6 separate regions of the Homo sapiens genome follow, and regions 1, 2, 3, 5 and 6 are each linked to region 4. The links come from fine-mapping of genetic effects on gene expression. A gene starts in region 4. Each other region holds a variant in brackets. All regions are shown on one strand. Distances are from middle to middle. Region 1 has its middle 14 kb from the start of DDX60. Region 2 overlaps PALLD (palladin, cytoskeletal associated protein). Region 3 overlaps DDX60L (DExD/H-box 60 like). Region 4 holds the start of DDX60L (DExD/H-box 60 like). Region 5 overlaps DDX60L (DExD/H-box 60 like). Region 6 overlaps DDX60L (DExD/H-box 60 like).

Region 1 (5,532 bases), 150 kb after region 4:
TTTTTTTGTGATTTTTTTTTTTAGCTCATCAGCTCTCATTAGTATTAGTATATTTTATGTGTGGCCCAAGACAATTCTTCCTCTTCTAGTGTGGCCCAGGGAAGCCAAAAGATTGGACACCTCTGGTTGAAGTCATACATTGATTTCTCAGATCAGTTCCTAATACATCAAGCGTCCAAGAAATGTTTGTTGGAAGAATAACTAAATGGATGAATGGACGAACCTAACTTACATATTTTTATACTGTATACCTTTAATTTGGGGCAATCTAAGATTGTATCTAGGCTTAAAATGAAAAGCCCAAGCAATTATCTCTACATATTGATTTAATTCAGTTGATAATGACTCAACGTTCCATTTTTTCATCTATTAACAACATTATAAATGAGATTGTGAATACTTATAAATAATATAAATATAAGACTAATGTCAAAGATTTCTTCATATTGTTAATGGGTACTAGATCATACAACAGCAGAAGATGCTAGAATTAAATATAGCCTGTAGGGTAGGACACTTGTTCATAACAAGGATAAGTCTTTTCTTTAGTTGTCAAAATGACCCCACAAGACCCATATTACCTATTCTGTAGAGTCTGTGTTTAATGTAGTCTAATGTTTTAATCCTCCAAATAGCAAATATAGGTAAATAGAACAAAAATCATGGCTGTCCCAGTGTCTGGTAGCAGAACCATATCTAAAGGGTGAAACTATAATGAAAAATTCTTTGTTATGTTAACTTGGAATTGAAGTACTGAGTCTTTTATTTATATGATACTTTATCATCACACTTGATCCAGCTTCTTATTTAAACAAGTTTCTAAGTGAGCTTGGCTGATTTAACATATGATTTTTCTTTTGAAAACATCACAAATATCATAATACAAACCTAACAGGACAAAGATTGGAGTAAGAGATAGTAAAATATGCTGGAAATCAACAAGGTTGTTGGAAATGGTAAACAGATGAAGTAGTGATGTAACTAAATTGAAGAGCAGAGCAAATCAAAACTGAAACCCCTTCAGAAAGAGATGCTGATGACATGCAAACGATTTGTCTTAGAGCCCAGGGAGGCTCAGGAATTGGAGGCACCAGTCACTTCCTTACAAATACTGTTAATTGGCAAACTATGGATATATGTAGTGAGTTAGGGGCTTCAAACCAGGATGAAAGAATCCCTAAGGTGCAGTTAGACCCTACTTTCCCATCCCCACTTTTCTCCAGAAAAACTAATCCGGAAGCCTTCAGACCTAAGAACGCACATCCTAGAAGACAGCAGATGAATCACTGGAAGAGGTCTGGGGAATTGGATTGAGGAAGGGAAAATAAGAGCTTCAACTGTGCTTGTAATTTTATTTCTTCACACAAGATATGGTACAATATGTAAAAATATTAACATTGGAAAAATCTTGGTGGTGGTGTGAGCATTAGGGAGTGGAATAACAGGATTAATTAGATAAATGGTGAATAATATCATATATACAATATATTATTAATTTTTAAATAAAATAGATGCTTTTTCTCTTAACAATTAAATTATATAAATCTACCATCAAGTTAATGTTTTCAAATGTTTTATTTAATTTTAAAAATTTATTTTTAATTTTTGTGGGTACATAGTAGGTATATACTTATGGGCTACATGAGATAGTTTGGTACAGGCATGCAATATGTAATAATCACATCACAGAAAATTGGATATCACCCCCTCAAGCATTTATCTTTTGTCTTACAGACAATCCAATTATACTCTTTTAGTTATTTTAAAATGTACAATTAAATTATTATTGACTATAGTCACCCTGTTGTGCTAGCAAATACTAGGTCTTATTCATTCTTTCTAATTTTTTTGTACCCATTAACCCTCCCCACCTCCCTCCGATGTTTTATTATTGAATGAATAGTACAGATCTCAGAGTCTCACCAGGTTTTTTTTTCTCCAGAGTGAACTGCACCCAGGCAGTAACTTTGATAAATCTTAGGTAAACTTTACAACCCCATCTCAATGCAGTGCTGAAGAAATGCTCACTATTTAATATTTCCTTTAATAAAACCTTACTCATTTCTTTTTGCTGTTGTTGACTCTTTTTTTTTTTTTTTTTTTTTTTTTGAGACGGAGTTTTCGCTCTTGTTGCCCAGGCTAGAGTGCAATGGTGCAATCTCCGCTCACCGCAACCTCTGCCTCCCGGGTTCAAGCGATTCTCCTGCCTTAGCCTCCCAAGTAGCTGGGATTACAGGCATGCGCCACTACGCCTGGCTTATTTTGTATTTTTAGTAGAGATGGGGTTTCTCCATGTTGGTCAGGCTGGTCTCAAACTCCCGATCTCAGGTGATCCACCTCCCTCGGCCTCCCAAAGTGCTGGGATTACAGGCATGAGCCACTGTGCCTGGCCGACATTTTAAAATGAATAAAAAATGTTTCCCTTCCTCTTAAGGTGTGTTAAAAAAATACAAGTTTTCCCTTCTACCTCTCAGGAAGTCTAGCTAAGTCTTATTATAAGTAGACTTCCTCTATCTCAGAGAGAAATTCACTTTGTATTTCTGAATTATAAGAATAAAAAAATTGCAAGTATAGGTGTAAAAACCCTCAAAATGATACAGTTTTATACGTATGATGGAAATAATTCTAGAAGCATCAGATGGGGCTTGTGCTTCTAGAGGAAGATGCTGGTCTTAGCCTGAGAAGGAGTTGAGTTCTCAGAGCCTGGAAAAGCAGGTGGGTGGTGGGTTCTGTGATTGGCCAGGACACTCATGCAGGACAGAACAGTGTCAAGGCATAGCAGGCCTGGACATAGACTCCTGAGCACTCAGCATTAAGCATCATGGCCTTGGAAGCTGCAGTGAAAGTAGTGGGTGCCTCTTCTTTGTAATGGACCATGGGGATTAGAACAATGAGTCTCATGGTGAACCGCAGTGGACTACCGACCAGAGGAGGCCTCCCTGAAATTTGCCTGGGTTCCCTGGCCCGTAAATCCGGGTATAAGGCCAGTGAAGGAAGAAATTCATAAGAACAAAAAAAAAAAAA[AAAG/G]GAAAAAAAAGCTTATTCTCCTGAAAGGTCTGAAAACTGGATATGATTTCATCAAAAAACATAATGCAACATGACATTTCTTTCATTCTGTACAGAGTGGAGAAGAAAATACCTGTTAAAAAATATTGCAATACAGGAATATGAAATACAGAACTTCTCTTCCTTAGAAAATTTACACCAGACTAAGACTCTTAAGTTATTATAACAAAGTTAGACTGATTCATTGAGGATGAGGTTAGTGCCTGGAAAGTAATACAGTGTTACAAATTAGTTTTTTTAGATGCTGTCAGGTTAGGCTGGTGGTGTGCGCCCATAGACCCAGCTCCTTGGGAGGCTGAGGTGGGAGGATCCTTTGAGTGCAGGAGTTTCGGTACAGCCTGGGCAACACAGTGAGACCCCCATCTGAAAGCCATTTTTTAAAAATGTTGTCTTGAGGAGCGGCCAAGATGGCCAAATAGGAACAGCTTTGGTCGGCGGCTTCCAGCGAGGACAATGCAGAAGGAGGATGACTTCTGCATTTCCAACTGAGGTACCCAGTTCATCTCAATGGGACTGGTTAGGCAGCGGATCCAACCCACAGAAGGCGAGCAGAAGCAGGGTGGGGCATCGCTTCATCCCGGAAGTGCAAGAAGCTGGGAGACCTCCCTCCCCCAGCCAAGGGAAGCCATGAGGGACTGTGCTACCCTACCCGGTTACTACACTTTCCCCATGGTTTTTGCAGTCTGCAGACCAGGAGATTCCCTCGGGTGCCTATACCACCAGGGCCCTGGGTTTCAAGCACAAAATGGGGTGGCTGTTTGGGCAGACACCGAGCTAGCTGCAGGAGTTTTATTTCATACCCCAGTGGCACCTGGAACCCCAGCAAGACAGAACTGTTCACTCCCCTGGAAAGGGGGCTGAGGCCAGGGAGTCAAGTGGTCTCACTCAGTGGATCCCATCTCCACGGAGGCCAGCAAGCTAAAATCCACTGGCTTGAAATTCTCGCTGCCAGCACAGCAGTCTGAAGTCGACCTGGGACGCTCGAGCCTATTAGGGGGAAGGGCATTTGCCGTTACTGTGGCTTGAGTGTGCAGTTTCCCCCTGGCAGTGCTAAGGAGGCTGGGAGGTCTGGGCTGGGCATGGCAAAGAGATTGTGGCCAGATTGCTTGTGTAGATTCCTTCTTACTAGGCAGGGCATCTCTGAAGGAAAGGTAACAGCCCCAGTCAGGGGCTTACAGACAAAACCCTCATCTCCCTGGGACAGAGCACTTGGGGGAAGGGGTGGCTGTGGGCACAGCTTCAGCGGATTTAATCTTTCCTGCCTGCTGGCTCTGAAGAGAGCAGCTGATTCTGACAAGAGGGATTCTCCCAGTACAGTTCACCAGCTCTGCTAAGTGACAGACTGCATCCTCAAGTGGGTCCCTGACCCCCATGCCTCCTGACTGGGAGAAATCCCCCGACAGGGGTTGACAGACACCTCAAACAGGAGAGCTTTTGCTGGCATCAGGCCAGTGCCCCTCTGAGATGAAGCTTCCAGAGGAAGGAGTAGGCAGCAATCTTTGGTGTTCTGCAGCCTCCACTGGTGATACCCGGGCAAACAGGATCTGGAGTGGACATCCAGCAAACTGCAGCAGATCTGCAGAAGAGGGGCCTGACTGTTAGAAGAAAAACTAACAAACAGCAACAACATCAACATCAATATAAAGAACCCCTAAACAAAAACCCCATCCAAATATCATCACCCTCAAAGATCAAAGGTAGACAAATCCACAGAGATGAGGAAAAACCAGAGCAAAAATGCTGAAAATTCCAAAAACCAGAATGCCTCTTCTCGTCCAAATGATCACAATTCCTCTCCAACAAGAGCAAAAAATGACAGACAGTGAGACTGAAGAATTGATAGAAGTAGGCTTCAAAAGGTGGGTAGTAACAAACTCCTCTGAACTAAAGGAGCATATTCTAACCCAAGACAAGAAAGCTAAGAACCTTGATAAAAGGTTACAGAAACTGCTAACTAGAATAAGCAGTTTAGAGAGGAACATAAATGACCTGATGGAGCTGAAAAACACAGCACAAGAACTTCATGAAACATACACAATTACAAAGTCAGCTTCATCCCCTGGGATGCAAGGCTGGTTCAACACATGCAAATCAATAAACGTAATCCCAAGAATGCCCTCTCTCATCACTCCTATTTAACATAGTATTGGAAGTTCTGGCCAGCGTAATCCGGCAAGAGAAAGAAATAAAGGGTTTTCACATAAGAAGAGAGAAGTCAAATTGTCTCTGTTTGCAGATGACATGATTGTATATTTAAAAAACCCCATCATCTCAGCCCCAAAACTCCTTAAGCTGATAAGCAAATTCAGCAGAGTCTCAGGATACAAAATCAATGTGCAAAAATCACAAGTATTCCTATACACCAACAATAGACAAGCAGAGAGCCAAATCATGAGTAAACTTCCATTCACAATTGCTACAAAGAGAATAAAATACCTAGGAATCCAACTTACAAGGGATGTGAAG
Region 2 (5,532 bases), 29 kb before region 4:
CTCTTTCCATCTCCCCTTGGTCTTCCATAGGGCTCTGGCTGGCTGAGGCACTCAGCAGGGCTGACGGCTGATTTTTAGGAGACAGGTACCCACTGTCTGGTGACGAGGACTCCCCATTTGGGCTTCTGTTTCTTGGCTTTGCGGCTTTAAATATGGATGTTAGCTCCTCAATTAAATTAGCTGCCTTGTCACACAGCTGGCTCTGGGGGCCACCCTTTCTTTGATGTGGCGTTTTGGGCTTTACGTTTGTGCTGGGAGTTTTTGCACCACGCTTTTCAGCCTTTCGGAGGCTCCGGATGTAGCTGGGCCTGGTGAGCAGGGGTGACATGGCAGGTTTCCTCTTTGAAACAGGTGAAGAGATACTCTTAGTTTGTTTCTCTGCCAGAGGCTGGACAGGTGTTGACCTGTTATCCTGAGGTCTCCTCGAGGCGTGTTCACCCAATTTGGTCTCCTTATGGGAAGGATGTTCACAGAGGCTTGCAGGAGAAGTACTGAAAATCTGCGAGATCTCCTTTTCCGAGTCAAAATCTTCTGTTTCGGAGTCGGCTATGGCTCTCCGGGCCAGGTCAAGACTCTTGTTTATCTCTTCCTGGCTGAGGAAAGCAGAAAGGCCCGGGAAGAAGTCAGTATTCTTGCTTTCTTCCTGCATGTCTGAGAGGGAGTCATAGAAGGACTCATGGGAGGAGGTCCCTGACATATTTGAACGGTCTTCATGCACTCTGTGTCTGCTTTCAGTAGGAAGGCCAGAGGCACTGGAAACTGTTTTCTGAAACTGTGTTCTGAAAGACAGCATAGAATGTCATTAGTAGCAATGATTTTTTCCCCATTTTAATCATAAAACTTGTAAGTCACAAATTGGGAGAAACATTAAAGTGAATGAATATAAGTTTTCTTTATTTTACAAGTTGGAAGAAATATCAAGTATACTTGTGTTGATCATTTTATGATTTTAATACATGCCCTGTGAGTGCTATCAAATATCTCACTAGGCAGTATTAAATCATTCAAAAAGATGATGTGTGCAGTAGGCACTATTAGTAGGATAGGGCTCACAGTCAGCCCCCCGCCCACCTTACTCAAACTCTAATTGATTAATGTAATGAGATCAATAGAATATTGATATTTTTAGTAAATCTGACTCTGATTATCCAACCCTAAACCACAAAATGCATTTTAAGGATTCCAATTTTCATTTATTTATAGTTTTCAGTGAAATCTTTGAAACTTTATTGTCTCCAGTTATGTGCATTCATATTCATTCACTCAACAGTCCAACAGATGGTAATAATCACTTATTAAATTTCAGGTGCTGGAAGTACAGCTGTGCTGTATGCCAGGGATGGGCAAACTTTTCTGGAAAGGGCCAGATGGTAGATACTCTTGACTTTGTGAGCTGTTCAGCCTCTATTATAATTACTCAACTCTGCATGAGCATGAAACCAGCCAAAGATGATGGAAATGAATGAGCATGACTGTGTGCCAATAAAACTTTATGGACACTCATATTTGAATTTTATATCATTTTAATGTGTTAAAACTATTATTATTTTGATATTTAATTTTTAAACAATAGTTTTAAAATGAGAAAAACATTCTTAGTTTGCAGGGCATACAAAAAGGGTTGGGATGGATTTGGCTCAGGGGCTGAAATTTGCTGACCCTTCATCCAGACTTACAGCACAGTTATCATGTTCAAGGAGTTAAAAGTCATGGGAGGTAGTAAAGTGGAGGAGATAGAGAAGATATTAAACAAATAATATGTTAATAATATAAAATTTTGATAAGGCTTTTAAGGAAAGTGAGAAAAACCTGGGGGCTATGAGAGTCTAATCTAATCTTAAAGGGCATGAGATAACTAGAGGCCTGGCATAGAACACTTACATGGGAATATCAGCAGAATTAAATAAAAGGTATTTCATTATCTGTAAGCTATTACAGCTTTAAATTCCACTGACATTTTGAACTTTATATTGTGAAGCAATGACTCCTTGTTACTCTAAGTGTGCCATTCTTTTGCTATATATTGTTCATAGAGTACTGAGAGGGACGATCTAGAAAACATCAGCGGTGATGTCTGCCACAAGACTGAGTCTAGGAGTGAATAATGGAAGCTTCCTGGATGTGGTGAACCTCAACTTTCTACCTTGTGTCAGTCAGGAGTAAACTTGGTGGGACATTCCCCAGAAATGGTGTGTCTTCAGAGGACTGAATTGAGTTGCTTGCGTAGAAGTATCTTCCCATCTAAGAAAATCTCTAATTTCAAAATACATTATGCAAGAGTCGAGGGGGTTGTAGAAATCCAGCTCAAGAGCCTACTGCTTCACTGGATGCAGTGAGTCATAGACCTGCTGTTTAACAGAGGGTAGTTAATCAGAGATCCTGAAACTCAATGTTAACATACCCCATCTTCTTAAGTGGAATACTGTACTTTTGTCTTACATGTCTTCTTAGAAAGATAGTTACTTTTTTTGTGCCTGAATTATTAGATTCACCACATGCTAGCCCTACTCTATCTACTGAACCATATTTCGCACTCTTCTTCAAGTAAATCCTTAATCCTTCAGAGGGTGTCATCATTCTCCCTGACTTTACTAACCCAAATATCACTCTAATTCCTTTGTCCAGTCTGTGCTGCAGGATAGAAACATCCTGACTGGTCTCCAGTTATTCAGATATGGCTCGTATATGAGGAACAATTATATTCAGTGTATTTTTAATACTTGAATGTATTTTCTTCATGAGAAACAGGCAGTTAAAGTATGATTTTGAAAAGGCAAAGGTATAGTAATATATAAAAATCAAATAACATGTATTTGAGCTTTTATTTAACAATTGAAAAAATCAGTAATATATTACAATTATTTCAAAGGAGACGCTGAAGATGAGACACATGTAGGCAATCAGGCATGCTGATATGAAGTTGGTAATAGATTTGAAACTGGTTAATATCTATAGAGCAATAAAATACAATGTTTGGAATCATAAGAGTGGAAAACTATAGCATTTCTACTAGAAAAAAAATCATTTGTATATCTATGCACCAGTATAATTTGCATTGTTTTTAGATTTTTCCAACTTACAGAGTTGTAAAATTGTAAAGACAATAAAAGGCATAGACCCCTGTGGAATTAGATGACCCTGGAACGTCCACCAGAGCCA[A/G]TCCAGCAATGGTACTGGGTGTCTATTGCAAGGACACCCAGTACCATTTTGTATATTGCAAAACGTTTTATAGTTTGTCCTACCAAGGCAGCCTGGTTTCTCTCAGTAATGAGCTCTGAAGTACAATTGGCCCCTCAGTCAGCACACATGGTAGATAACTTTAGGGGAAGCCAGGATCAGGATCAACTCTTACAAGGTGTGGGGAGATGAGCCATTAGGTAACATGGATCCAGAAGAGACATGAAGGTGGAGAGGGGGAGACTCGGGGGCTGAAAGTAGGTTTGTGTACCAAAGGCACAACAGACTATATTTTCATTTATTGCATTTCTTGTAAAATTTATTTTTCTTTGAAAGAAAGCTACTGTGTTTTTTATTTGTTATTTATTTATTTATTATGGCCTGAAAGAAATTCAGTTTTTGTGTTGAAATCAGTGCTAAAGGAGATTGAAAAACATTTTGTGTCAACCAAACCTGTGGTAGATTAAGCTGAAAATCCAAGGAAATAATTGCAACAAAACCTTTGATTCTTGACATGACGAAATTGTGAAGCCTAAGCTGGGATAGATGTACTACATGGACCAGAATTACCCACTCGAAGTGTATTTATGGACTATCTACCACATGCCTGGTAGTGCGCTAGGGACGGGGATATGACCTTGAAAAAGAGAAGGTTTTTGCCCTCATGGAACTTAATACAAATTACAACTAAATAATAAGCTTATATAATTGAGTATGTCTTTTTTTAAATTGTATTTTATTTTTTAAATTGACAAATAATAATTATACATAATTATGGGGTACCTAGTGATGTTTCAATACGTACAATTTATAGTGATCAGATCAGGGCAACTAGCATATTCATCTCTAACATTTATGATTTCTTTGTGTTGGGAACATTCAACATCTTCCTTCTAGCCATTTGAAACTATAGAGTATGTTATTGTTAGCTATAGTCATCCTGCAGTGGTATAGAAAAACAAAGTGCTGTGATAGCACCTAGAAGCAACAGCAAGGTCAGGATCAGGAAACCTTTGTGAAAGAGAGAAAGCTGAAAGAATGATGTGTGAGGGATGAGGAAGAGCGGGGAGGTGAAGAGGATACTGGCAAATATGTATTTTAAGACTTGGATCCCAGAGAGCACATGGCAGACTCAGGTAATTCTACTAAGCATTTCAGCTAAACAGAAATCTATCTGGAGATGGGAAAATAACCAGAGATAAGGCTAGAAAGCAGGAGTTAGGTCAGAGAGGGCCTGGAGCCATGCAGAGAACTTGCATTTTATGTTATGGGTAGTCAGTAGGCAAGGAAGAGTGTTAAGTCCTTGAGAAACATCACCAGACTTACATTTTTGAGAGATAACTGATTGCAGTCTGGATCCGGGACAGAGGTAGGGAAAGAGGAAGACAAGACTGACAGTAGGGCGGTCCGTGAGAAGGCTTGTGCAGTAATCCAGGGGGTGCACACATTTATCATGGTTTCACGTTTGGTGTTGCTGTCATCTGGACGTCTTCATTTTGGAGAATTCCTCATATTCTGAGGCTCAGTGAGAAACTGAACTCACTTGTAATGGGATGTGAAATCTCCAAGTATTTTCTTTCCCAGCCGCTTGGAGACTGGGCACAAGTCTTGGCACTTGGCCTAGACAGCGATTAGATGTGTCCTTCTTGGACTCTGAAGTGAGAGCTGGTGATTCAGGGAAGCAGTGGGTCCAGGGTCCATAAGATAGATGATAGAAAGGAAAGAACTTGGTAATTGATTAAAGGCAGAGGTGATGCAGAGGCAGGGTTACAGGTTTCTCACCTCAACAACCAGATGACTGGTACCATTAACTTACATGCTACAAGTGGAGGAACAAGTTTTTTTATTTTATTTTATTTTATTTTTTAAGCTTGATTTTGATTTGAGCCTTTTGCAGTTGAGGGACCTTTGGTAACTCTGGTGTTGATGTCTAGGAGATTTGAGATGCTGATCTAGAGCCCAGGAGAAGGGAGAACAGAGCTGGATTGGGGATTATTAGCCTATGGGTGGCACTTTAAGACATGGGAATGCATAAGGTCATCGAGGAAAAAAGAAGGAGAAGATAGAATCCTTCGAATAATCACAGGGAAGCAAGAAAAGCTAGATATCGTGGAAGCTGGGAAAGAAAATATCTCAGGAAGCAGTACATGTCCTTTTGATTTTTGATTTTAGCAACTTGGGAATATTTAGCACCATTGCAACAGCACTTTCGGTGTATGCAACAGAAATATAAGCCAGATTGCTACATGGAAGGAAAGGAAAGAAGGAAAGAAAGAAAATATTACAGGTGTGGTGGTTTGTTTTGAAAAGATCATAGAAAGAAGGAGAGACAGAAGGTAGTAGTTGAACAAAAGT
Region 3 (5,532 bases), 24 kb after region 4:
TTATTTATTTATTTATTTATATAGGGTCTCGCTATGTTGCCCAGGCTGGTTTCAAACTCCTGGGCTCAAGTGATATTCCTGCCTCAGCCTCCCAAAGTGCTGAGATTACAGGCATGAGCCATCATGCCTGGCCTTCTTTTCTTCTTAAATTGATGATTTTATTTTCTGTAAAATTATTTTCTAATTCATTATCTATAAGTATTTCCCTAAAAGAAGTTATTTTTCTCACCCCCTTTGGACTGTTTAAATTAGTCTCAATAAATATTATAGATGTATTATATGTTGATAATTGTTCAGGATTGGGGGTCCATACTACCTTCTCTAAGTTTCTATATTTTTGAAAGCTCCATAATACCAAGACAGTTCATTATATTCTGAAATAAAAATTAATTTGTCAAAGAGGAAATATGCATGTTTATCAGAGCTTAAGAAAAATTGTCCTAAAGACATATGAGGGTGATTTTACTTAGTATACCTTATAACAAATGTAGAATTCAAATGTCTCACTAAAAAAATTAATTTAACTTTATTTTAAATTCTGGGATACATGCGCAGAACATGCAGGTTTGTTACATAGGTAAATGTGTGCCATGGTGGTTTGCTGCACCTATCAACCCATCACCTAGGTATTAAACCCTGCACGCATTAGTTATTTATCCTGATGCTCTCCCTCCCCCGTTCCCCCAACAGGCCCTAGTGTGTGTTGTTCCTTTCCCTGTGTCCATGTGTTCTCATTGTTCAGCTCCCACTTATAAGTGAGAACATGTGGTGTTTGGTTGTCTGGTCCTGCGTTAGTTTGCTGAGGATAATGGCTTCGAGCTCCATCCATGTCCCTGTGAAGGACATGATGTTGTTCCTTTTCACAGCTGCATAGTATTCCATGGAATATATGTACCACATTTTCTTTATCCAATCTATGATTGATGGGCATTTGGGTTGATTTCATGTCTTTGCTATTGTGAGTAGTGCTGCAGTGAACATACTTATGCATGTATCTTTATAATAGAATGATTTATATTCCTTTGGGTATATACCCAGTAATAGGATTGCTGGGTCAAATGGTATTTCTGGTTCTAAGTCTTTGAGGAATTGCCACACTGTCTTCCATAATGGTTGAACTAATTTCATCCCCACCAACAGTGTATAAGCATTCGTATTTCTCTACAAACTCGCCAGCATATGTTGTTTCTTGACTTTTTAGTAATCGCCATTCTGACCAGCATGAGATAATATCTCATTGTGGTTTTGATTTGCCTCAAGTGTCTCATATTTTACAGCTGGGAAATACTTTATTTAAGATATTTTATATGGTTTTCTCCCTTTTACAGAATGAAACAGTGATTCAGAGTGCATATAAAAGCCTCATACAACACTTGGAAGAAATAAGGGTTTTAGTATTAGCAACTCATTTTGAACATTTGAAATGGAATGATATGATGGAAGAGGTATTAAAATTTTTATTTCTTTAAATAAAAGTTTGATAGAATTTGGTAAATGAGAATGAACTTGTGATTAGTTCAGTCCTTAGACCAGACTAAAGGGTGCCATATACCTCCTTAGTACATGTATACTATCTGAATCTTAGAATGTCATGCTCTCAGAGTACCTTGAATTCATCGGATGGCATATGTAATTTTATATTCATTTCCGGAAGCCATATTTTAAAACAGACTCTGGGAAACTAGAAAATTGTAGTACTTAATGCAACAGTAATGTTTATTTTCCAGTATTCAAATTGAGGAGGGCTCTAAGATATCATTTGCCATATAAACAGTCAAAATGTGGAATTAATTATACCTTAAGTCTAATTTTCTGATTATCTTCTCAAGCTATGCTTTATACTACTATTTATCATGATGGATTACTAAGCACCTCTTTCTTTTTTTTTTTTTCTGATGCTCAAGCGGTAAAAGGTGGTTGCATAAGAAAGTTTGGAAAAAAACACAAAAGTAGTAAGAATATCCATAATTCCACTTCTTGATATTAGCGTTTTAACATATATTTTTGTGTAGCTGAGGACATATTGTGTGTGTGTGTGTGTGTATGTGTGTGTGTGTGTGTGTGTGTGTGTGTGTATGTAGTTTATATATATGTTTTTGGTGTTTTGTTTTGTTTTTTTTTCAGACAAGGCCTCACTCTGTTGCCCATTCTGGAGTGCAGTGACACAATCATGGATCACTGCAGCCTTGACCTCCCAGGCTCAGGTGATCCTCCCACCTCAGCCTCCTGAGTAGCTGGACCCACAGGCATATGCCACCATGCCTGCCTAATTTTTAATTTTTATTTTATATAGAGATGGTGTCTCACTTTGTTACCCAGGCTGGTCTTGAACTCCTGGGCTCAAGTGATCCTCCTACCTTGGCCTCCCAAAGTCTTGGGATTATAGCTGTGAGCCACCATGCCCAGACTGTATATATATTTTTAGTGTACATTTCATTAAGATTATTGCATATTTTCTTGTCATTAAGAATTTTTCATAAATGTAGTATCTAATGAGTGCATTATATTTTCTTAATGCTAGACACTTAAATTACTTCAAAATTTTGGCTCATATAAATAATGTTATAATGAACATTTTGATGTATATGTTTTTTGTATACATATTGGGTTATTATTCCTCTGTGCTAAATTCCCAGAAATTCAAAACTGGATCATAAGGCATCAACATATTTAATGATCCTGATGGACGTTGTCAAAGAGCTTTGCAGAAATTCTATACCTACCTGTACTTTTATCTTTAATCTGTAAGAGAGGTGACTCACCACACAATTTTCAATGTTGTGTGATATTATTTTAAAATTTTTGATATTATTGATATTTATAACAAGCTAATTTTTGTTTTAACATATACTTCTCTGATTTTTAGTAAAATGGGATGATTTTATTTTTATTAATAATCTATTTCCTTCTTTGTGAATCAGTTCATGTTTTACTAAATCTTAATTTCTTATTATTTAATTTCTTTAC[A/C]TATTTAGGTTTTCATATTTCTCTGGCATATTGGTTGTAATTATTTTTCAATTTTCTATCATTAAAATGATCATACATTTTTAAACTAAACATTTGAAGTTCCGTTTAGTCAAATCTATACAATCGTTTTCTTTATGTTTCTTACAAGTAAGAGCACTTCTGAGTAAAAGAATATTTCTAAATAATTTGACATTTGAAGAAATTTCTTTTTTGATAGGCGTATCAGACTCTATTTCTGCTTCAGCACCTATGGTCAGAAGGATCGGACATCCAGCGTGTTCTCTGTGTCACTTCATGTTCACTATCCTTGAGAATGTACCATCGTGTCTTAGTAAGTAAAAAGAACACAGCCGCCAGGCAGAAAGCTGTCATTCATCAGGTGTAACTGGTATAACTTCACTGGTGGCATCAGGTTCTCCACTGTGGACATACTCTTGGTTTCTGACCGCCATTTTCTTCATTAGGAATTTAGCCCCTTCCCCCACCAATTTATGTGTATTAAATACCAAAAAGGGGAGAAAAATTAGAATCTGTATACATAAGAAAATATTATGTTACGTAATTTAGTGTTTTTCTTAAAATACAATGTACAGCAAGTTTTATCTGGTGTTTCACTTAGTAGTTATTTGGCCCAGTTCTTCTAAAAAACAGAGAAAGTGAGGAGGAAGAGGAAAAGAAACAAATTGGAGGAGGGGCCCCACTATACGCTGTGTTTCAGGGTCTTTGTGTTACCTGACACCATGTAATCTTACAACTTTTCAGTATAGCAATTATCACTCTCTCCTGTCGATTCAAGACTTTGAGACCAAGACTTCCCTAACCTACCTAAAATCACATGGTAAAAGGCAGCCTGGATTTTGACTAGGATGGTTGGCTCCACAGCTTGTAATGATTCTGCTCTGTTAAGTTGTGTATTTAAAAGAACAGTTCTGTTATTGTTTATTAGTGTCACTGAGACTATAGAGATCCTGAATTTTTATAATTGTTTTCAGCTTATAGGGCCCTTTAGGAATCTTTTGAGGAACATGGATTTTCCGCTCTACTATATGCATCCCTGCTTGCATAAGTACACACACACACACACACACACACACACAAAGTTTGTATGCAGTCTAGATATTGGTGTGTTTCAGGCTGAAAACTCTGTTCTTAAAACAAACAGCAATAAAAGAAATAGAAAAAAAAAGAAAAAGAAAAAGAAAGAAATAATGTGACTGTACAGGGCTCAAGAAGTTAGTATTCTATAGGAGAAAATTGTCCATTTCTTAAATCTATCAGCATGTTTTCATAAAATATTTACTTTGTGCATGGTAATATATATGCCAAAAATAAATATATTTGGAGAGAGAGAAGAAATAGACATGATATCTACCCCCACTGATCATACATATCTTGGAAGGCAATTTTAATGTCCCTTTGAAATAACTAGAGGAATTTCAGACCTCTAGTCTGAACCACCAACTCAACATTTTCACTTGGATTTGTAATAGACATCTCAAATTTAGGATTTCTGGAACCAAACTCCCCAAACCTGCTTCTGCCTCACTCTTCTCCATCCCAACAAATGACAACAACATTCTTCTAGCTGCTAAAAAAAAAAAAAAAAAAAAAGGAAGCTGTTTACTCTTCGGGAGCACCATGGAGAATGGAGAATGGAGAGAGCAGTGAGCATTTTATGCTTCTTCCTTCTTGATTCTTTCCTTAGTTTGAATTTCCCATCTTTGACTTTCTCTTGACTGATAACACATTTATTAATTCCCTTAGCTAAGGATATTGATTGTCTAATGTGTGCTAATAGCTGCTTTCAACCTACAGAGCTGGGATGTTATGAAGACTAGCTAATAATAGGTAACATTTAGGGCTTACTGTGTATTGGTGATATTCTAGATATTTCACGTTTTTCCAGAAACCCTATGAGAAAGTGTACTGTTACTATCCCAATTTTATACATATAGGAGAACTGACTCATACAGTGTCTTGACTGGAGTTAGACGGTTTTCAGAGCCCAGATCCTGAATTACTGTGCAATAGTCTTTTTAATGTAGGAGACAGAGCACTCCAATATTTTAATTTAGTATGTAGTACAGTAGATCTTAGCTATGTAGATTTCTCTAAAATTGTGAATTTGAATACTTAAATTTTGAAGATAAACAGTAAAAAATGAAGAACTTAGAAACTTTATTTCAGCATGATTGTCAGAATTTTAAGAGCATGCTTAAAAATGATAATTACCTTAATATATTCACTTTTATGTTATGCTGAAGATGTGCCGTGGGTGGGAGTGTGAATAGCACCCATCATAGGGTTCTGGGTATAAAAGCTGATTTCTCACAAAAGTTCATATTGATTAATTTAATTTGCTTCTTTCTCACATGATTTAGAGATGGCTAGGGATCACTGTCTCATTTGAATCTCCTTTACTCTATTTGCCTAATTGTTTTTGGAAAAATATTTTCAAATGACCATGCACGATGTTTTTGGTGGTTCTAATTTAAAAAAATGAACATATTGAACCCAAATCAATCTCCTTGTAATTTCAGTTATCCCTAATTTTGCTCTATGAAG
Region 4 (5,532 bases):
TATCAGACTGTTTATTGCTTATGGAATTTTGGGAGTCCTATAACCGTCTTTCATTTTATTCTCTCTCTGTACCTTTCAGTTCAAGCTGGCAGTGTTTCTGCTGATATTCTCAGAAATCTTTTGGATTTCCTGTGTATGTCACAGAGATCTTTTTGAAGCACTAGCAAAAGGTTGTCCAGCTGTACTCATGACTTTTTCTCCAGAGTACGTTTTCCCAGCAGTGAGTCTCTTACTTTTACCATCCTTTGCAGTCTTGAAATCCTGATAATTTCCCACATTATCCTTGTCCTGGTTCCTTTTTGATAATAGTCCTTCCCTCTTATAAGGACCCTTCTGATTATATCAGGTCCCCAGATAATCCAGGGTAATTTCCCCATCTCAAGATTCTTAGGAATATCTGCAAAGTTCTTTTTGCAACAGAAGATGACATATTTATAGGTACAAGGATTAGGACATAGATGTCTTTGGGAGACCATTATTCAGTCTACCACAGCTGTAAATAGAGAGAGGTTAACAATATAGGAATGGAGTGAGATTCCTGAGGAAGCTGGAGGTAACCAACTCAAAAGGGAGTGGTTATATTGTATGTGGAGCATGTCATGGGCTTCTTGGACTAGATGGAGGTGTCAGACAGTTAAAAGGAGTCTCTTTAAAACAGATATATTCTTAGTGGACTTGAAGAGAACAGCAAGATGCTGTAGGGTTTTAAGGGCCACTGTAAAAAAGATCAGGAACCTATAGTCATAAACAGTAAATCTGAGGTGAAAAATATTAGACAATTTCCTTCAATGTCCTGGTAAGGGCAAAAAATGGTTTACTAGATTGAGGTGATCAAGTTGCAGTGAAGGTGCAGAGGAAAGAGAGTGGATGAAGCAGTTGAGAATGTTAGTGAGAGGAAGGTTCAGTGCCTGTTCACAGAGTTGATCCTGGGGAGGTGAAAGAGTGGGGCTCCTAAGGAGACTGAGAGATTGAGGCAAGGGGGAAGTCTCTAAAAAGTGGAAATGGAGTTTATGATTTTCAAGTTTCTGGATAATGTCCAGGCTGGAGTTATGGTAACATATTATTAAAGTGGAAGAGAACTGGATATTGATTTGGAGTAGAGTCTGCTTATGTGCATTGTACATATACTTTGCGGTGGGAAGTGGGATGTGTGGAGTTAACATCTAGGGAATCCCCACCTGATACATCTATATCTTTAAGAGAGAAAAACAACAGCAGACAGTCAATTATATTAAGAACATGTAGGGCCCACTTCTACAACCAAAAGAGGAAATCCCCATTAAATTGTATGTGCTTTGGGGGAGGAATAATGACACTGTAGTATTTAAAAGAACTGGAATGAGATAATATATACAGAGAATATTGTAGATATTATCTTTGGAATTAAATTTTGAAGTCTTGGCTACCATTAACTACCTGTAGGGTCATCGACAAGTAATTGAATTCTCTAAGCCTTATTTACCTCATCCATAAAATAGCAACAGTAAAGTTGCTCATGGGATTTCTGTGAGATTTAATGTGATAATACATGTTAAGGGCTTAGCCTATTGCCTGGCACATAAAAAGCTCAATGAATGCTTTTACAGCAAAGCCCAATTTTCTGCTGCTAGCAAATGCATTCTTATGATACAAAGGTCCAGTATCAGATGCTAGAGAGGAATTCATCTGAGATGAACTCATGACTTAATCATGAGTCATTTCAGGTTCTTTCTCAATGTCATCCTCATTGAGAAAGAGAATCATAACTATTTTCAACCAAACATAAAATTAAAGAAAAATCCTGACAGAAGTGAGCAATGTTTTCACCTCCTTTTCGAAGCCACTTTATATTCCAGAGTCTGAGAAAAAACTTTGTTCTTCTGGGCTCTTTCTATTGTGAACAAGTCACTTCCACCCTTTCCTTTTCTTGAAGACAGAACTTCCGGTTTCGATTTCTCTCCATTTATTACCCCATGCCGTTACTGGGGCACCCTCACCACCACCTTGAATCTCAATATATTCTGCACATGCATAACGTCATGGAATTAAGCGTCTGGAGCACTAAAGACCATGATGGGCTGGGGTTGAAACTCGAATTTCAAACATTAATGAGCTTGATGACAAAACTAAAGAGCATTCTTCTTCTCAATTTAAATTCTCTGTGATAGATGATTGGTCTTTCAAATGTTCACACTGGACAGTTATACTATTGGAAATTTTTCATAAAATGAACTTCTTAGGACAGAAACTCAAAGCCCCTAATCCTTTTTTACTCCATTTTTGCCTGTCCAGTACCTTGCCAGAAAAGAAAAACGCCACACCTCACCGCAGACTTTCATAGTGCTTAGCGTGCTGCATTTACTCTCAGCCTCAATTCCTTGTTTAGAGTCCCAGATTTCTCTGCTTTCTTTCCCTTTACAATTACATGCATGTCCCAGATAGCATATCATCGCTTCTACTATTACTTCCCTAAGATTCTCAGAGTAAACCAATGCAGACCTATATTCTACCTCCAGAAAACTGCGGAAATCGAAAAGGCCTCGCGGTGGAGAAAAGAAACCGAAACTAACTCCCTAGATAAAAACTCAGGCGCTGGCTGCTGTGTGGCTCAGAGCGCCCAGTCCGACGCCAGGCTCTGCGCTCGGTCTCCTCTGCTCCACCTCCTCCCCGCGGGGCGTGCAGCTCCGAAGCTCTTTGGACCTAGCAGGTTCGGCGGCCGGGGTGAGGATTGCGGGTGACGTCGGGTGTCGCTAGGGACCCTGGAGCGGAGCTGTCCCGCGGGGGTTCTAGGATTCCTTCAACATCCAGATGGACCGGGCGGGGAGGTGGCCTGGTGGCTTCGTGCGCGCCGGGCGAGGGAAGCTGGGGCGCCCACTGGGCTCGGGCGGCAGCTTCGCGGAGAGGTAGGGAAGAGGGACAACCACCGTGAGAGAGGAGAGTGCTCAGGCATTTAACGGGTCCTCTGCACCCGAGGGGGCCTGGGGATCTGGGGTGCTGAGGAGAAAGTAAGGGTCACCACATCTGAGCACAGCCATTCGAACCTGGACATTGACAGGCAGCAAGCCGCTTCCCTTTTTTCCGTCTTGTATTTAAGCTTTTTTTTTTTTTTTTTTTTTGAGTCAGTCTCGCTCTGTCGCCCAGGCTGGAGTGCAGTGGCGTTATCTCTGCTCACTGCAACCTCCACCTTCCGGGTTCACGCTATTCTCCTGCCTCAACCTCCCGAGTAGCTGGGACTACAGGCACCCGCCACCACGCCCGGCTAATTTTTTTTTATTTTTTATTTTTTATTTTTAGTAGAGACGGGGTTTCACCATGTTAGGCCAGGATGGTCTCGATCTCCTGACCTCGTGACCCGCCCGCCTAGGCCGCCCAAAGTGCTGGGATTACAGGCGTGAGCCACCGCGCCCGGCCGGATTTAAGCTCTTAATAGCGGAAATAAGGTTTTACTATTTCTCTGGAAAGGTACTTTGTTCTTTTTTCCCGCTTCTCTTTTGTTTACAAAGTTACATTGATAAATTTATAATAAACTTCTCAAGGTTTTCCATAATCAAAGAAGCTGACATCATCCGTGATGGGGCCTTAAGGATTATGAAAGCTCCTAATGACTGCTAGAAAAAGCGGTCAGAACCAAACAGAAGCAAGTCCTTTAAAGACACAATAAGAAGTCCAAACCATAACATCAACGACATACAGACCTTCATGATTTCGAGTGTTCTCCTGAAAACAGTAACATACCATTCAATCTAAGATTTGCAGTTTGAAGTTTGGTGGAACTCAGGTGCTGAGAGTTGAGGGTACTAAAATAAATGAGGGTGAGTTATGCTTCCAAGGCTCTTCGCCTTCTATCCCAAAGATATTGGGGATAGTTTAGTGTGAATCCTTCCTGATACTCTACAAAGAGACAAGTTTTTGTCTATAGCTCCTATCTCTCTATCCATCCATCCATCCATCCATCCATCCATCCATCCATCCATCATCCAGCCATCCAACCATCCGTCCATCCATCGATCCATCATCTGTCTATCTCTAGATCCATACACTTTAAAAGATATTTTGGCTGTCATACTGGTATGCTTTTCTTGGTTCATGATTTATTGGTACCTGTCAGTCTTACTTAGTAATTGCTGTATGATACCCCATGGTATGCTGGGTCATAATTGATCAGTTTTATTTGAAGCAGAAGAGAAAGACATAAAACAAAAATTAAATGCCCTTCTCTACTACTTTCCCCTTCATACTTAGTCTCACAGTTTTAGTTCTCCTGAGGCGTTACCACTCCAAAGATATACATTTCTTTCTTGGTTGCTTATAAATTATATGCTTACAAATCAGTCTTTTGTTTTATCTACTTTAGACAGACTCCGACGACTCCCTGTGAAAGAAATACTTCTAATATGAATTATATATTTTTAAAAATTCTTCTCAGGATTAGCTTTATGGCTTTTAATAAAATACCCATGTTAATTATCATCCACGGCTATGTTGATGTGGGTGGAAATCTCTGTGGTTTTCCCTGCTGCAGGCTCATTTTCTGCTTTGTAAGTATGGAGACCTGCTGGTTGATTTACTGATATCACCCTTTTTTATAACCTGCTGCTTGTTTTACTGATGTAACCATTTTTAAGGCAGCTCATAGTTTATTTGGAAATACAATTCTCTAAGAAATGTATCCAGCTTCTTATGCTCTAGTTAGTTCCCTATGCCGTTAATTACACCCAGAGAGTTTCTATTTTCATCCTAATTCCCTCTCAAATTAGCATAATCTGTCTTAAGTTCATTTGAAATGATAGTCTGGCCTGGGAGGGTAACACCTCCACCTAATACTTGCAGCAAGGCTAAGTCCTTCTGTTTAACTGAGAATTCTTTATGAGTCTTTGTTGAGCAAGGTGTTTTTTTTCTTTTTTTTTTGTCCTATCACTTTTTATTTGCAGTACAGAAGCTGTCACCTGTGCGACCCAAATTTCTTGGCTCCCTTCCTTCTTCTCCTCTTTTCCCCTCCCCTCCCCTCCCCTTCGCTTCCCTTCCTTTTTAAAATAGGGATGTGGTCTCATTTTGTTGCCCAGGTTGGTCTCCAACTCTTGGCCTTGAGCAGTCCTCCCACATCAGCTTCCCAAAGGGCTGGGATTATAGGTATGAGGCGCTGTGTCCAGCCAATTCTCTTCTTTCCAGCTCTGCTTTCATACCACCCAGTTCCTTCTTAAGACATTTCTCTTTCCCATTCTTCCTTGGTCATAGCTCCTCAAAAACAGCAACTAAAACACTATAGACATTGACCATCAACCTTTTCCAATCACTTTTCTGTGAGCATCAGGCTTGTTGGCATGTGGTTGGCTTCCTAGTTTTGAAGGGGATGATTTTTACCAGATATTTTGCTTTGCATCACCTGGGTTTCCAACTTTTAAGCCCAAGAAGCCTAGTTTCTCACTGCCTATTATCTGTCCATTAGGGTGGAGATACATACCATGTTTGATTGGTTTTATAATCTGTGTCTTCTCTTTTTACATCTAAGATGAGGATGAAAATTACAAACCTGTGGTATGTTATGGTTTAATT
Region 5 (5,532 bases), 50 kb after region 4:
CTCCTTGGAAAAGATGCCTAGTGTGGGCTTTATTCCAATGACATCTGCTGTAATTGATGAGTTTGTTGGAGATATGATGAAGGATTTGCCTATTCTAAAGAGGTACAGAGTTAATGAAGTACCTGATTTAGTGCCATCAACTTGAAAATACTAGTGAAGTGAATGACTCATCAAAATGTCTATGTAATATATCATATCAGGATATGGTAAATTCTATATAATGTGACTATAATACATTTAAGTGATTGTAACATCTAGTATGTCAATATTATTTGAACATTACTATATAAAAATCTATATTATTTTGAACGTATAATAAAATTACTCCAGCTATAAAGTTTACTACATTGTTGTTGATGTGGATGTGACTGTTACAGGAATGGCAGAAATTCAGGGTTTTTATGTCTCTGAGGTTTTATGACCCACATTATATCACACAAATAGAAAAAGAGGTTGTACAATTTCTGTTATCACAGCCTGAAGTTTGTGCTAAAATTTGAAAAGCTTAAAATTTAAAAAAATTATGTATTTATTTTTACAGTGATGATCCGGTTGTTCCTTCACTGTTTAAACAAAAGACATCTGATGAACTTTTGCACTGGCATGCTCAAAGACTCCTTAGTGACGACTATGACAGGATCAAATGTCATGTTGATGGTGAGCTCTGTAACCACGATAAAATAGAGCTTATATGAATTGCCTTTGCTGCTCTTTTTATTAACAGTGAAAAGATATTACATTGTAAACACGTTCTATTTTGAATGAGATCTATCTATATATTATATATAATATATATTTTGAATGAGATCTCTATATACAATATATACTATACATATATGTGTGTATATATATATACACACACACACACAATATATATATATATATTAATTGAAGAGGCACAGTAGGAAGCATGCTGTCTGAAAAAAATCCCATTATATTATCTGGTGTGCATATGTACGTATGCATGCAGATGTATCTGTTAATTCAAATAGAGATTTATTAATCTTTTAAGGATGTACATATGCATGGTATTGTCATGAAAATATCAGATGCTGTTTAAGTGGGAAAGATACTTGATGGTTTTAGGAATCTGTCTATACCTTGAAGTAAATATGCTGATACAGCCATAGTCTTCCTAACATTTTAGCTCTTTTCCTGCTAAACTATTGTCTAGTTGATTGCATGCTGCCAAGTACCAGCATAATTGTGCCCATGAAAACTCAGTAATGAGGAGGAGTTGAATCTACAAAAAGTAAAGCCCATGAAACAATTAAAAATGGGTCCTAAGGAAAGGAATTCATAGATCTTTTTTTCCTGGTTCATTCTTTTAGTGTCTTTCTCCAATCCGATGTTTATTTCCACCCTTTTCAGAACTAGTAAAACTTTTCTTTTTATTTTATTTTATTATTATTATACTTTAAGTTTTAGGGTACATGTGCACAATGTGCAGGTTAGTTACATATGTATACATGTGCCATGCTGGTGTGCTGCACCCATTAACTCGTCATTTAGCATTAGGTATATCTCTTAATGCTATCCCTCCCCCCACCCCCCACCGCACAACAGTCCCCAGAGTGTGATGTTCCCCTTCCTGTGTCCATGTGTTCTCATTGCAGAACTGGTAAAACTTTTCAGAAGGATCTAGAAATAAGTCAAGTAAGTATGCCAATTGCATATAGGAATAAGCTATTTATGTAAGTGTCTACGAAGATTCTGCATGGTGTGTTTCCAGAGTGGTTTGATTTGTGATCACATACACAGACACGGAAAAAGCAACAACATCCAAAACAACAAAACACTAGCTTATTTATATCTTTTATGTTTGTAAAGAGTGTTCCTAGGTCTCAAGTGAATCTAGCCTTGCTTCCTGGGAATTTTCTGTGTCATTTGAATTTTTGCATGGTGTAAGGTAATTGGTATCAGCATCTGTCAGCTGTAAGCTCCTAAATATTTGACTGGGACCAGAAGTAGAGGTTTTCCTTTTTAGGAGTGC[A/G]AACAGAATGTTTTAGGTCCGGAGTCAACAAACTTTTTCTGAAAGGTCTAAGTAATAAATATTTTAGGCTTTGCAAACCAAGAGACCAAAATTGACAGCATGATGTAGGTACTCATATAATCATTTAGAGTGTAACCAATTTTAAAAAATGTACTCATCAGATTTGATCATGTGGACCTAGTTTGTAGACCCCTGTTGCAGGTGAATGTGCTATTAGACTGCCCCCAACCTTCCTCTTCTCCTCTTCTCCTGCCAAATGACAGGGGCAATGTCCAGGTACTTAGACCCGGACATTAGCAGAGCTTCGTCCTCTCTCTTCTTCAAATAATATAGGGAATTATTTTGTTAGCGTATGGTAATCTGACCTCATTGGCAAATACTGAATTATTATTCTGGAGTTAAAAAAATAATGTGTGGGTAGCACACATATATAGCAATATTTTAAAATACATGTTTACATTTTAAGTCTTTCTATTTCAGAACAATCTAGAGATCCTCATGTTCTTGATTTCCTGAAAAAGATTCAGGATTATCAGCAATTTTATGGGAAATCGTTAGAATCAATCTCTACGAAAGTCATTGTGACTCAAACTACTCGGCCAAAGGAGGATTCCAGTGGTGCCAGTGGTGAAATATTACAGGTAGATCGCAAAGATTTTACCTAATTTTTTTCTTTGATGTTGTTTTGTTTTCTTTAGGCTCATATTTGTCTCTGGAGGTGTCTTCCATTCTCTTCTTTCTCATGTTTGCTAACTGTCTTAGTCCATTCTCACATTGCTAGAAAGATATACCTGCGATTGGGTAATTTATAAAGAAAAAAGGTTTAATTGGCTCACAGTTCTGCAGGCTGTACAGAAACTGTGGTGGCATCAGCTTCTGGGCCTCAGGGAACTTCTTTTTCTTTTTCTTTTTCTTTTCTGAGATGGAGTTTCGCTCTTGTTGCCCAGGCTGAAGTGCAGTGACACGATCTTGGCTCACTGCAACCTCCGCCTCCCGGGTTGAAGCAATTCTTCTTCCTCAGCCTCCCAAGTAGCTGGGATTACAAGCACCCACCACCAGGCCCGGCTAATTCTTGGTATTTTTAGTAGACACAGGGTTTCTTCCTGTTGGCCAGGCTGGTCTCGAACTCCCGACCTCAGGTGATCCACCCACCTTGGCCTCCCAAAGTGCTGGGATTACAGGTGTGAGCCACCACACCCAGCCTTCAGGGAACTTATAATCATGATAGAAGACAAAGGGGGAGATGGCACTTCACATGACTGGAGTAGGAGGAAGTGTTGGGGAGGTGCTACATACTTTTAAACAACCAGATCTTGCACAAGTCACTCATTCACTATCATGAGAACAGCACCAAGTGGGATGGTGTTAACCATTTATCGGAAACCCCCTCCCCATGATGCAGTCACCTCCCATCAGGCCCAGCTTCCAATGCTGGAGATTACAATTCGACATAAGATTTGGTGGGGCCACAGACCCAAATCATATCACTTACAAATGAGTTATTTTACTTGCTTGCCATTAGAAATCCTAAGAAGATTACATAAAATCTAGTATTCTATCTTTTTTAGAATAAGAAAAGATAGATTTATCTGATAACAAGCTTAATGCATCAAAGAATTACAAGCTTGGATTTAGAAAAGTCAAATTTAAGTTAAAAGAAATGTTTGTGGGCTGGGTGCAGTGGCTCACACCTGTAATCCCAGCACTTTGGGAGGCCAAGGTGGGCGGATCACCTGAGGTCAGGAGTTCGACACCAGCCTGGCTGGCCAACGTGGTGAAACCCTATCGCCTCTAAAAATATAAAAAAATAGCTAGGAATGGTGGCGGGTGCCTGTAATCCCAGCTACTCAGGAGGCTGAGGTAGGACAATTGCTTGAACCCAGCAGGTGGAGGTTGCAGTGAGCCAAGATCGTGTCACTGCACTCCAGCCTTGGTGATAGAGCAAGACTCTGTCTAAAAAAAAAAGAAAAGGAATTTTTGTATATTAGTTTGTTACAGTGAAAATCTTTTTACATAGAGGTGGTAAAAATAGGCCTAACATTTCCATCAGCTTCATTATTTTGCCTGAATTTGGAAAACTGTCCATGTTTTTAAGTCATTTATGCCATTAATCTGTCCTGGACTTTTGTTTATATTAAAGGTAAGACCAGGTCTTCTTGAAAGGGTAGGAATCTTCCATACCTATTTTCTTTCTCTTCCTGCCTTTACACTAGACCATGCTTGTTTACAAACTTAGAATCCCTGTAATTCAAAAAAAATTTAAAAAGATAATGTGGAAAAGTATCAGGTAACACAAATGATAGTGTTTATAACTGAACAAACGGTAGATTTTATGGTTCTGCTTGGGAAGGTACTACTTTGCGATCATTCTTCATCAGAGGGGATTTCATTAGGCTTCAGTACTTCTCTCTTAGCCTCATGGTTGGGAATTAAGGAAAGACATTTATTTGCTTTGGTAAATCCCCTTCCTGAGGTCAACCATGCTAAATACGTGAAAGAGCACAAACCAAACTATTGATGACCAATGGCACTTATCATGGCTGCCTTACCCTAACTGGAGTAGGAAAGGGAATATTTTTGGAGAATGAAACATAAAAGCCCCACAAGGAAAAGATCCAAAAAATGAAAACATTTCTCTTTCCCACTAATTTCAGAAAATTGTTAATCAGAGATCTAGAGTCTTCCTTTTCCTTGCCAGACCGTCAATTCATTAACCAGGCTGAAGTTGCAAAGGCTACAATCAGTGACAGGATATCTCCTCAAAGCCATTCTAGATAATAGTTATCACTGATTACACTGTAGGTTTCTTAGCACTGCTGTTGGGTCTCTCTCCTAGAGCTATTTAAGGGTCCATCCAGCCACACAACACATGCTTTCAACTGCAGAGGCTCCACCTCAGCCCACAGACCTAACCTCCTCTGGGCTGAGGGTGGCCAGGTGGGGCTGGCTCAGGCAAAGGTCCAGGCTTGGCTTCAAGCATAAGGATCAAAGTGAATACAGCATCCTGAAGCAACCATCTTCTGCAGCCTTTGTGCAAGGGCCTCACCCAGCTGAGCCCTTTGCTTTGCCAAGCCCTGTGCCCAAGGCTGGCTCCTGGGGCCCAGGCTGTGCACCTCTGCTCCTTTGGCAGCCCTAATTGCAGGGCCAGGAACTGATGGGAGCTCACTCAGTTCTGTTATGTTGGTAGTGTGAGGCCTAGGAGCAGCCTCCACACTGAAATAGAAGCAAAATGGGAATTAAATGTTTGATCTAGTTAGGGGAGAGGTGGGAAAAATTACCACCCCACTAAGTGTGTGTGACTCCTCCATTTTCCAGTGGGATTTCTGTTTTTTTCCCCACATTGACTAATGTCTGCTTAGACCGTTGGTGTTTTTCAACATGAATCTCCAAAGAGCGAGTGGGATCTGGGAGGCCCAAAATGCTTTGTGGGGTGGAGAATGAATAAATTAATTAAGTTCCAAATCCCCAAGAAGCTGCCCTACAATCAAGCTCAGTGGCTACTCTTTCTCTTCTTTGTTTTCTTCCATTTACTTTTACTT
Region 6 (5,532 bases), 100 kb after region 4:
GAAGAGCCATGGAGACTTTGAAACTTTACTTTTTGTTTTCCTTGCAGCTCCTTATCAAAGAGGTATCATCGTGCTTTGGCTTTTTGTTCTCTGTAACTAGTACCGTGTAAACTTCTTTCTATGCTAAACCAACTGAAATTTCTATAATCTGCATTCAATGATAATGTTACTTATCATTTATTAATAAATGAAGTCAGGTAATATTTGTCAGTCACTCACACTGGTATTTTATGGTATTTGAGTACATGACAAGTTAAATCAACTTTTTGTTTCTCATTTTTAGGACTATTTAAATAAAAAGGGTAATCCAAAGAAATTTGCAGGACTTGCATCATATTTGCATGGTCATGAACCTTCAAATCTTGTTTTTGTAAATTTTCTCAAGAGAGGCCTTTTCCATAATCTCTGTAAGCCAGCCTGGAAAGGTAAGCTTGGGTTTTATACCTGTAGTCGAAAAATGGCAACATATTTATTGAATAGCCAAAACCGCAGATATGTTTTTCTCTTCTTCCTCCTTCTCATTTATTAAAGCAAATAAATACTAAGTATATGTTCAGATTTACAGATGCCAAAAAATTAGACACTAAAAGTCAACTGATATTTATTCTAATAAAGAGTATTTGAGGGCTACTTATATATTACTTAACTGATAAAGAATATTTGCAGAAGAGAAAACGGAGAAGCATAGAAAGACAATAAGTTTCTGATGGTCATATGATTTTAGTATGCTTCAGAGCCCAGTTAATTAAACCTAGCCACCTTTTAATGCCCACAGTATGGTGCTCATGCGTTATGGGGAGTGGAGAGTAGGTCAAGATGACCAGAACCTAGAGCTAGTGTTTAGAAGTGTTGGTAGGTAAGTTTGGAAGCTTTGTTTTGACAGGATTTGAAACACCCTAAAGAGCAGGCCAAGGAACCTGGATTTTTCAATTAGCCGTTGAGATACCCTCAAAGGTTTTTGAGTAAAGGAGGGATATGTTTATATTCATGCTTTGGAAAGGCTGATCACTCTCAAGATGGCCTGAAGAAAGGAGAGTGCAAGTCAGGAAACCAGTTAGTAAACATTCTGGGGTGGGAACTAGGGCGGGTATAGCAAGGATGGAAAAACAAGGCACAGAATATAAAATCTCCTGTCTTACCCAAAAAAATAAATGTGCACATAGTATTGCAAATATGGTCAATTTCTGAGGTATATATTTGCTAGAAAATTTTGCCTTCAACAAAAGGAAATGTACTATAAAAACAAATTTAGGCAGAAAATAAATGGAATCAACATTATTCTTATTTATAATAATGCTCTTTATTTCAATAGGCTCACAACAATTTTCCCAAGATGTGATGGAAAAGCTCGTGTTAGTATTGGCAAATTTGTTTGGAAGAAAATATATTCCAGCAAAATTCCAAAATGCTAATTTAAGTTTTTCTCAGTCAAAGGTAAAGTTTGTTATACTTACAATGATATAATAATGATAGTTATTAAATGTATGCTACTGGAAAGCATTCAGTACCTATAGGGTTAAATTAATATAAGCTACTCCATTTGTTTTAATAGTGTTGTCTTTTCATAATTAGAGTTCTATTTAATTTTTAGTTCAAACATCTTCCCCTGCTAATCTAACAAACAATTCTTATCCCTAAAGTTTTTTCACTTTATTGGAGCAAATTATGTAATTCAGTAGCAACAGAGATTACATACACAAATAGTCATTTAAATAGAATGACAGCCCTACTGCTGAACCTATAGTTCCATTGGGATTGTTTACAGCTAGGGATGGGAGTGCAGGGAAGGAATTACATTATGACCTCTAATGTCCTCTTCAGACAATATTGAGGTGGTCACCTAAGAAAGAATCCCCTAACTTAAGGGTTGAGAGACTGAAAGAAAAATTATTTTCTAAGTTTTTTTGTAACACTGTTTGTTTCCAATTTCTTATTTTTTTAAAGACACAACAACAAAATAATAACAAGCAAACAGAACCCAAGAAAATGTGCATTAGAACCTGGGAATGTAGAAGAAGCTTGTTTCTATCCAGTAACCCTAGTGAATAGAGAACAAAAAGGTAATTAGCATTAATCTAGGCTTTCTGACCTCACAATGCCTCTGGATATACCTCCAGACCTGAGCACCCAATTTTAGTTACTGACATATATCCACATTGCAAACCACTGGAACTGTTAATCATTTTCTTAAATGCATACACATTTTAAAGTATTTAAAAAGGAAACTTCATATTTACTACTACTGTAAATAGAAAGCCAGGATCTTTGATTTCAAAACTAAGGAAGCCATAAAAATAGATGCAGTTAACATGGTTCTCAGCTGAAGCTTCTCTCTCTTTGCTACAAAAAGAGATTATAAACTTTTAGAGAAACAATGGTGGTCTATTGCCTCTGGACTTTCTAGGGTTATCAGAAAGAATAGAAGAGGACTGGAAAGAAGATATTTTTATTTATTTATTTATTTATTTATTTATTTATTTATTTATTTATTTATTTGAGACAGAGTCTTGCTCACTCACCCAGGCTAGAGTGCAGTGGCGCAATCTCAGCTCACTGCAACTTCCACCTCCCAGGTTCAAGCCATTCTCCTGCCTCAGCCTCCCAAGTAGCTGGGATTACAGGCTTCGCCACCACGCTTGGCTAATTTTTTTGTATTTTTAGTACAGTTGAGGTTTCATCAGGTTGGCCAGGTTGGTTTTAAACTCCTGACCTCAAGTGATGCGCCCGCCTTGGCTTCCCAAAGTGGTGGGATTACAGGCATGAGCCACCATGCCCAGCCCACTTTTTATTTTTTAAAACTGATGTATAATTACTCAATGTTCTGTGTGTCACACTAAATCATCTCATGTACCTCTTATATTATGTACCATAATTTGGGATAACTGCTCTATATTAGTCAATTAGCAAAGATTTATTGAGCAATAAATATGTGTAAACT[A/G]TAGCAAAAATCATGATTGGGAAACATAGTTGCTACCTTCCAAGAGCTTGCTCTCCTGATGGGGCTGTATAGCATACACATTCGAGAAGGTGGCAAACAACACAAGGTGTACATGGTAAGCAGCACGTGCTGCCCTAGAACGGTGTCCAGCAGTGGCACAATGGCAGGACATGGAAGGCATAGCAGTAAAGAGACCATATCACTTTGACCAGAGTGTAGAGCTGCACCTGTCAATTTATTCTTTTGTCTTGGTCCATCCACAGATGGAGCTGAGTCCGAAGTAGGCTTGTGGAAATTGTCATACTATCCACTGTAAGGAGTTGGTAGGGGCATTCTTTATTATGTCCACACGGTTGCCTTTTGTAAGAATCCCCCTGGAAAATTCTTACCTGATATTAGTGCTGAGAATAAATAGCTGTTTATCTCATAGACATTCTGAAATGTGTCATTCACACTTGCTCCTAGGAATCTTGGAATATAATTTGTGCCCCATTTTAGTCTCTTTCTTGTTTTTCTTTCCTTTTTACCAAATTTTGATTTATATGATCATATTGTATTATCTTTACCCTTATAAAATACCTCAATTATTGGAAAAGTACAGGTTATGAATAAATTAAGGAAAATATCAAATAAATAATAAAACCCATAATTGTAACAGAAGAAAACCAAGAACATTTCTAATGTCATAGCTATTTCTAACTCACACTAAAGAAACTTCTAGTCCTAATTCTGAAAGAATTTGTTTTTAAACATGAAATTTGGAAGCTGAGTTAGCTTGCAATACCAGCTACTTCTCTATCTACTACCTGTCAGGTTTGGAACAAGTTTACCTCTGTGAGGGTTAGCTCCCTCATGTACAAAATGTAGATGAAAATGTTTACTGCATAGGGTTGTTCTCAGGATTAACTGAGCTAACATATAACAAGTGCTTGGGGCAGCAAAGCACAGTGTTGGCACATAATCTGAACTCAATAAAGCATTGACGCTACTACTGCTACACTAACTTGTTACTTGCTCTCTAAATATGTCCCTCAAGTCTCTGAAATATACCTAAGTTTAAGATCAGTGTAGGACATGTTTCTATTAAATTGGTGGTTTTGGCTAAGTGGAGTCAAAATAACTTTTTTAAGGAAAGATACTTACATTTATAAATGTTGGTTGAAATCAAAAGGAAATTTTACCTTAATCTCACAGGTGAGTAAAGTAATCAAGGGTTTTGATGAATGAGCATCAATCTACAGAACTATGCTGCAATCTTATCACCAAGCAGTTTAATTTTTTAAATAAAAGTAAAGAGATCTTTCTGAAATGTATTTCGCCCATAGGTGATCCTTGCCGAACTCCCGGAGGATTTTAAAGCTGCTTTATATGAGTATAACCTGGCAGTAATGAAGGATTTTGCCTCCTTCCTGCTGATTGCTTCCAAGTCGGTGAACATGAAAAAAGAGCATCAACTCCCTTTGTCAAGAATCAGTAAGCAGATTTTAGTTCCATTCCGGAACAATTTAAAGAGTAAACAATCTTGGTTAAGAAAGCCTCTGGATATTGGATGCTTCAAAGCTGGTAAAGGAGCTTATTACAGGGCAGCTGTACTAACCCAAGTGTTTTATCCCCAGAAAACAATTTAGCCCATTGTAGGGTGTGATAATGGCTCTGTTTTCCAATTAAAAAAAAACTTTATAATTACCAAATATTAATTGGGCAATGGAGGAAAAAAAATAAAAGTCATTCATGAACCATTTTGATGGAAAGTTGCCTATCTGTTCAGGTTGGAAAACTGGATCAGAAAAAGTGACAGATGAAAAAGAAAACGGCATAATTTCTGGCATTTTTTTCCCCTGAGGGGCAGTTGCATAGTGGTTACAAATGTGAACACTGGCAGCAGAATGCCAAGGTCTAAATCCTGGCTCTGCTACTTATTAACCATGAGGTCTCATGCCAGTTACTTAATCTTTCTGTGTCTCATTTTTTTAATCTGTAAAATGAAATGACTAAAAATATTACCTAGCTTACAGAATTTTAGAGGATTAGGTATATTAATGTTTATAAGTTTCTTAAAACAGTGCATAGCACATAGTCAACATCGCGTAAGTCTATTCTACCCAACATGGTAGCCACCAGCTAGCTACGTGTCACTATTTAAATTAAGTTGATTAAAAATAAAACAATTGAAAAGTTAATTCTTTAGTCACTTTAGCTTTAGTCACGTTAACTTTCCAGTGCTAGTGGCTTCTACTTTGGACACAGTAGAGGTAGAATATTTCCATCATTACGGAAAGTTCTAGCAGACGTTGCAAATATCATTCTTTGCTTCAATTATTTGTTCTTGATTGAGGAGTAACTGGTATTGCAAAGTAACTAAGCTTCCAAATTTCAATTTTATAGCGGGAAACTTTTAGGGGAGAATAAATGGAAAGAAGCTAGACTAAGAGTAAAGAGTGGAGCCATAAAATGATTCCCATATTCCCCTGTCTCCTAATATAGTCATAGTTGGAGTAAAAGACAGGGAGGTAAGCATTGTAGCTACTCAAGATTTGTTGATGTAGGACACAGCATGAGCAAATGCAGACAATAATGGTGGAAGCAAGGAAAGT

Evidence for each region. PIP is the estimated chance that this variant, and not a neighbour inherited with it, causes the effect.
Region 1: its variant is the best candidate, but not a certain one, in a credible set for the expression of DDX60L in whole blood (INTERVAL, PIP 0.59).
Region 2: its variant is fine-mapped to the expression of DDX60L in whole blood (INTERVAL, PIP 0.92). The same link has a PIP of 0.9 or more in monocytes after interferon gamma.
Region 3: its variant is the best candidate, but not a certain one, in a credible set for the expression of DDX60L in whole blood (INTERVAL, PIP 0.74).
Region 5: its variant is the best candidate, but not a certain one, in a credible set for the expression of DDX60L in monocytes after Pam3CSK4 (Quach 2016, PIP 0.87).
Region 6: its variant is the best candidate, but not a certain one, in a credible set for the expression of DDX60L in whole blood (TOPMed, PIP 0.68).

What each region holds. Positions count from the first base shown.
Region 1 is chr4:168,329,742-168,335,273 of GRCh38, reverse strand. No RefSeq gene overlaps it. Among named protein-coding and RNA genes, the nearest start is that of DDX60, 14 kb to the right of the region's middle. The variant AAAG/G (reference allele first, on the strand shown) is at 3,025.
Region 2 is chr4:168,506,670-168,512,201 of GRCh38, reverse strand. PALLD (palladin, cytoskeletal associated protein) reads right to left here. Exons shown (of 22, transcript NM_001166108.2): 2 at 1-779. The coding sequence starts at 697. All of the region lies in intron 1 of LOC107986198 (a long non-coding RNA gene), which reads left to right. Among named protein-coding and RNA genes, the nearest start is that of PALLD, 12 kb to the right of the region's middle. The variant A/G (reference allele first, on the strand shown) is at 3,160.
Region 3 is chr4:168,453,805-168,459,336 of GRCh38, reverse strand. It overlaps DDX60L (DExD/H-box 60 like), which reads left to right. Exons shown (of 38, transcript NM_001012967.3): 6 at 1,329-1,445; 7 at 3,185-3,298. Among named protein-coding and RNA genes, the nearest start is that of DDX60L, 24 kb to the left of the region's middle. The variant A/C (reference allele first, on the strand shown) is at 2,968.
Region 4 is chr4:168,477,545-168,483,076 of GRCh38, reverse strand. It overlaps DDX60L (DExD/H-box 60 like), which reads left to right and starts at 2,585. Exons shown (of 38, transcript NM_001012967.3): 1 at 2,585-2,700. RefSeq lists an enhancer at 2,327-2,566.
Region 5 is chr4:168,427,580-168,433,111 of GRCh38, reverse strand. It overlaps DDX60L (DExD/H-box 60 like), which reads left to right. Exons shown (of 38, transcript NM_001012967.3): 11 at 1-102; 12 at 542-657; 13 at 2,474-2,634. Among named protein-coding and RNA genes, the nearest start is that of DDX60L, 50 kb to the left of the region's middle. The variant A/G (reference allele first, on the strand shown) is at 1,994.
Region 6 is chr4:168,374,256-168,379,787 of GRCh38, reverse strand. DDX60L (DExD/H-box 60 like) reads left to right here. Exons shown (of 38, transcript NM_001012967.3): 31 at 1-62; 32 at 284-425; 33 at 1,313-1,434; 34 at 4,264-4,411. Among named protein-coding and RNA genes, the nearest start is that of DDX60, 58 kb to the right of the region's middle. RefSeq lists enhancers at 404-573, 3,037-3,206. The variant A/G (reference allele first, on the strand shown) is at 2,939.